2 separate regions of the Homo sapiens genome follow, and region 1 is linked to region 2. Evidence: fine-mapped expression QTL. A gene starts in region 2. The other region holds a variant in brackets. All regions are shown on one strand. Distances are between the middles of the regions. Region 1 overlaps LOC105371059 (a long non-coding RNA gene). Region 2 holds the start of ZSCAN32 (zinc finger and SCAN domain containing 32).

What was found. PIP is the estimated chance that this variant, and not a neighbour inherited with it, causes the effect.
Region 1: its variant is the best candidate, but not a certain one, in a credible set for the expression of ZSCAN32 in whole blood (INTERVAL, PIP 0.85).

What each region holds. Positions count from the first base shown.
Region 1 is chr16:3,372,555-3,375,572 of GRCh38, reverse strand. All of the region lies in intron 1 of LOC105371059 (a long non-coding RNA gene), which reads right to left. Among named protein-coding and RNA genes, the nearest start is that of OR2C1, 18 kb to the right of the region's middle. The variant T/C (reference allele first, on the strand shown) is at 1,574.
Region 2 is chr16:3,399,951-3,402,450 of GRCh38, reverse strand. It overlaps ZSCAN32 (zinc finger and SCAN domain containing 32), which reads left to right and starts at 1,447. Exons shown (of 7, transcript NM_001284527.2): 1 at 1,447-1,506. It overlaps ZNF174 (zinc finger protein 174), which reads right to left and starts at 1,236. Exons shown (of 3, transcript NM_003450.3): 1 at 45-1,236. The coding sequence starts at 446. RefSeq lists silencers at 890-1,109, 1,660-1,809 and an enhancer at 1,187-1,686.

The DNA of each region.
Region 1 (3,018 bases), 27 kb after region 2:
GCCAAGCACACAGTGGGGCTTCACCCGTTCGTTCACACCTTCCCTTTACCCTCTCACCTTGGCTCTTAGCCTTTGTTGAATATCTGGGCTCTGGACCATTTCAGATCTACTGTCATTCTTTCTCAATGGCTAAGCCACCTGACATCTCCACATGGGATCTTCTAGTCCTCTGGTATTAACAGTATCTTTTGATTCCGGCTCACTCTGTCCAGACTAAACTAATCCCTATAAACCTGTTCAGAAAACTTGCTTATCAGTCCAAATTAAAATCAGGTTCTCTTCCTTGGGTGCCAATAGGTCACCATGAATGTCCCAAGTGTCTGAGGAGTAATGAAGAAACCACAGTTGATTGTTGCCTGGCAAGGGCTGACCAAGATAGACAAGAAGTTGCTCTGCAGAGCCCTGTTTTAACTCCAGCCTCATGCCAAACTGCTCAACTACCTTTGGTGCTAGAAGTGGTTGAAGGACTCAGTGGAAAGTAATTCCATGAAATTAGGACATCCTACCCCCAAATAAGCCTTTAACAGAAGTCCTCTCCCACAAGTGTGCAGCTGCTGTCACTACATAAGACCTGGAACTGAGGACTGCTGTCTGCCTCTCTCTGGTCACCCTGCCTATCTTGAGGATCTGTAAGTAGTGAAAACTCTGAAACTTTCACAGTGTGGCTGTGGTGGTCTCACCCACCCCTGATGGTGAGACCACCCCCGAGGAACCCAGGCAGCCAGATCCCCTGCTGGTTTCTTCTTCTGGGGCCTCTGGTGGCTGCTGGGCACAGTAGCTAAGTTAATGGAGAAACCCAAAGAGTTCTGTGTAAAACACCAAGACATGACCCTTCTAGGGGCTATCATGGAATATGGGCCTTTCTGAAGGGAGGACTGGAGGACATGACAAAGCTTAGATAAGGAACTGAGCTGTCTCAGTCTGGCAGCTGCACCACCATTTCACCTGCTTCTTTCCCCCAATTCTGGTCATGACAGAACTGTACGGTCATGTCTATGATGTCACAGGCACTGATGAGCTCTCATCCCTGGATTCTTCCCCTTCCAGCCTGAGACTCTTTTGTGTCTCACCATTTCTTGGAGTCACTGGGTTCCTCTATAAGGCCTTATGGTCTGAATGGTCCTGAGTATGAGCTCTGGCTCTTCTCTTGGGAAAGTCCCTGAGGAAGGGGGCTTCATTGGCTCTAATAGGAGCTTGGCAACTCCCCCCATAATCCCAGAGAAAAAAAAACCCTATCACTGACACCCTACCTCATCCCTTCAGAAATCCCTGTATGGGCTCAGAGAGCAGAGGTATGGTAACAGAGATTCCTGAAAGCCAGAGCTAAACACTTGAACGTGGAGCGGGGCAAGTGCAGCTGAGCAGAACAGAATTAGAAGAGCAGTCAGATATTCATGTGGCCAAGAAGCACGTGAAAAAATACTCATCACTAATCATAAGAGAAATGCAAATCAAAATCCCCATGAGATACCATCTCAAAGCAGTCAGAATGGCTATTACTAAAATGTCAAAAAATGACAGATGCTGGTGAGGATGCAGAGAAAAGGGAATGCTTATACACTGCTGGTGGGAA[T/C]GTACATTAGTTCAGCCACTGTGGAAATCAGTTTGGAGATTTCTCAAAGAACTTAGAGCTACCATTCAACCCAGCAATCCCATTACTGGGCATACAGCCAAAGGAATAATCGTTCTACCAAAAAGACACACGCACACATATGTTCATTGTAGCGCTATTCACAATAGCAAAGACATGGAATCAATCTAGATGCCCATCAATGGTGAAGTAGATAAACAAAATGTCATACATATACACCATGGGATACTACACCACCATAAAAAAGAATTAAATCATGTCCTTTGCACCAACATGGATGGAGCTGGAGGCCATTATTTTAAGCGAATTAACAATGGAAGAGAAACCCAAATAACACGTGTTCTCACTTGTAACCGGGAGCTTAGAAGTACACATGGATACAAAGAGGGGAACAGCAGACACTGGGGCCTACTAGAGGGTAGAGAGTGGGAGGAGGGTGAGGACTGGAAAACTACCTATTGGATACTATGCTCATTACCTCGGTGACAAAATAATCTGTAAACCAAACCCCCTCGACAGTCAAGGTCTCAGCACCACAGCTGCCAGGGACACAGAGCACATCAGGGTCCTGTTGGCTTAGGGCAGTGCAGGAAGGTCTGTGGCTGCTCCCACCCCAGATCCACAGCTGTCACACCGTGCAGCACAGTACCCAGCCCCAAGCTGGTCCCACTTTGGCCCCCTCCCTCTCTCTCTTTTTTTTTTTTTTTTTTTTGAGATGGAGTCTCACTCTGTCACCCAGGCTGGAGTATAGCGGTGCGATCTCGGCTCACTGCAACCTCCGCCTCCCGGATTCAAGCGATTCTCCTGCCTCAGTCTCCTGAGTAGCTAGGATTACAGGCACGCGCCACCCACACCCGGCTAATTTTTGTATTTTCAGTAGAGACGGGGTTTCACCATGTTGGTCAGGCTGGTCTCAAACTCCTGACCTCGTGATCCACCTGCCTGGGCCTCCCAAAGTGCTGGGATTACAGGCGTGAGCCACTGCGCCTGGCCTCTGGCCGTCTCTCGAGCAGAAAGCCAGCTGTATTGATCTGTCTGGGGGAGAGGTGTGACTCAGACACTGAGGACTTAACTAAAGTGCCCACACCTTGCTGGGCATTGCAATCCCTCCATCACAGAGCAGGCCTTTCAAAAACCAGCAGATTCTCATTCAGAGTAGGACCAGGTGAACATAACCTGCAGAGGAGAAAGGATGCATTTTACAGGAGACAAATCTCCCATCCTTAATATTGTCCCTCTTTGGGACAGCTGTTTAGACCCTAGGAAATAACCTTCCTCCAGAGAGTAAAAAATATTACCACCGTAGTTGGCCCAAAAGCAGCTACCGATTAAGAAAGCATTCAAGGCCAGGTGCGGTGGCTCACACCTGTAATCCCAGCACTTTGGGAGACCGAGGTGGGCAGATCATCTGAGGTCAGCAGATTGAG
Region 2 (2,500 bases):
AAGAAAAAGAAATCCCCAGGATGATGGGAGAGGACCCTCCTTACCCACTGCTTTGGTTTCTTGGATGCTCTGTGAAAATCTTCCACGAGGGTCACAATCTCCTTGCTGCTCATTGGACATCGATGCCTGACCCGAGCCTGGATCTCCGGGGGCAGGATGGTCAGGAACTGCTCCATCACCAGAAGCTCCAAAATCTGCTCCTTGGTGTGCAGCTCGGGTTGCAACCACTGACGGCAGAGCTGTCGGAGCTGGGAGAGAGCCTCTTGGGGTCCAGACACCTCTTGATAACAAAAGCGTCTGAAGCTCTGGCGGCAGAGCTCAGGATCTGGGCAGTTTTTTTGCAGAGGAGGGCCCCGTTTCTCTTCTAGTTTGGCTATTATGTGTCTCTCTTGCTTGGAGGAAGCTTCAGTGTTGGAGCTTAAAGTTATCTCCATTTTAGCTGCCATTTTGGGCGTCAGGAGACAACTCTCTCCTTGTAAACGGGTTAAGCCTTTGGGATCATGACCCTGGAGAAGTCTCTGAATACTAGAAAGATTCTAGAAACGAAGGTTCTCTGAGGATGTTAGGGGGAACGGGATGCAGAGACAAAGCCTCACTTGCTAGCCTTTACTAGCCAAACTCAAGACAACGCGGTCCCTGGGAGTGGGAAGAGTTTTGTCTTCTTGTCAGTTTTTTGCAGTCTTGCAAAGGAGAAAAGTCATAACGTCCTAAAAGGACTCTGGGGAAAAAATACTTCTTTTATTTCAGTAGCAAGCACACAGGTCTCGGATTTAATGAGCAATACGCTCTAACCGGCGGGTGGAGCGGAATCCCTAGGAAAAGTTCAAGCTGTCGCAGGTAGCTTGCCCCAACTCTCCCGCATCCTGGCGGAAACCGACCGGGTGCATGTCGCCGGGTGCTAAACGGTAGAGCTAAGCGAGGCCACAGCGCCAGCCGGGGGTGTGAGGTAGCGAACAGCCTCCTGCACGCGAGCAAAGCGGCTGCTCGCTGCCGAGGCGCCGCAGGCCCAGTGGCTCCGGCCTCCAGGGCGGCCCCGCGGCCCAGCCAGCCCCAGGCCTGGCGAAGCTGCCGCAACCCGATGCGCAGCTGAACTCCACGCCCGGTGTGAGCTCGGACTGGCGACTGCGACACCGGTACCCCGAACAGCCCGGCGCCCCGCACCCACCTGCAGCCGACTCACCTCTCCGGGAACCCAAGACCGAGGGACTTAGGACCCGACACCGGCGAGCACGGGCTGGGGGCGGGGCCGATGCCACTCGCTGCGGAGACGCCCACTAGCTGCTGAGGACAACTACTGACAGGGCCCGCCTCCTGCCAAGGGCATTCTCTACCGTCTATTGGTTGCTGCGCCTGTCAATACCGTCGCAGTGCATCCCGGGAGCTGCAGTCCGGCAATTCGGCTTGCGGGCCTGCGCAGGGGCGTGCGTAATGGGCGGAGCGAATCGCGCCGCTGACTTCCGGCCCGGAGGCTGAGGGAGTTTGTGGAGTCGCGAGTGCTGGTGTCCGGTGAGTTCTCCGCTTCCTTGCGGCCGGCGGGATTAGCCGCTGGGCCCTGCGACGGCCGAGGAGCCCCTCCCCGCTGGGAGTCTTCTCCGAGGCGTTCGGGTCCGGCCCCGATGGGCGTCTCCTTGGGACAGGCAGCCTCCCTCAGGCCGGGCGTCCCCAGACGCGCCGCGATCACCGTGCCCCGCTCCCACCGTGCGGATCACCCCGAGCCTGAGCGCCGGCGCCCCGGGACCCCCTGGCCTTGACCCTGCTCATCTCGTCCCTGTCTCGCCCACTCCCTACTCATCCACAGTGCCTAGCCCTGGCACCGAGTGCGTTCTGAGTACTCAATAAATAGTTAACTAAGTGAAAAACCTATCAACCTGGCTCCCCATCCTCATGCTACATTTTTTTCCGAGTGTTTGGGCCATCGCTAGAGTGAAGTAAAATTTTCAGAGAACAGCATTTTAAAATTTAACGATGAGTGGGAGGTAAGGGGTCAAAAGGGGTCAAGAAGGGTGCAGGTTCCGCCTTCTGCATGAAGTTAGAAGAGCTTTTATTAAATTCTTCTTCAGCCAGGTAAGGCACAGGATGAACATAATGAAGGCAAGGGGTGCTGGTTCTAGTCCTGGCCTTGCTGCCTAGGAGCTGTGCTGTGTGATGCTTTAGGCAAGATACTTCATCGCTCTCAGTTTCTTTTTGGCTAGAAAGCAGTGCTAACAATAATAATGCCCTTGATTTCTCTATCTCTAGAAGCACTGAAATGTAAAGAGAATTTAAGTGAAGGCAGTTCAAGTTCCTTGAGAAAAGGGAACCCAAATCCATTTTTAAAATATAAAAAAATTTCTTTAATTTTTAAAAAACATTTACCATCATAACCATTTTTAAGTGTACAGCTCAGTAGTCCTGAGTATATTCATCTTGTTGTGCATGCTGGATCCATTTTAATACCACATGGTGAGGGTGTATCAGCCCCTGGAGAAAATGTAAATTACGATCTGCTTTAATCTGTGTT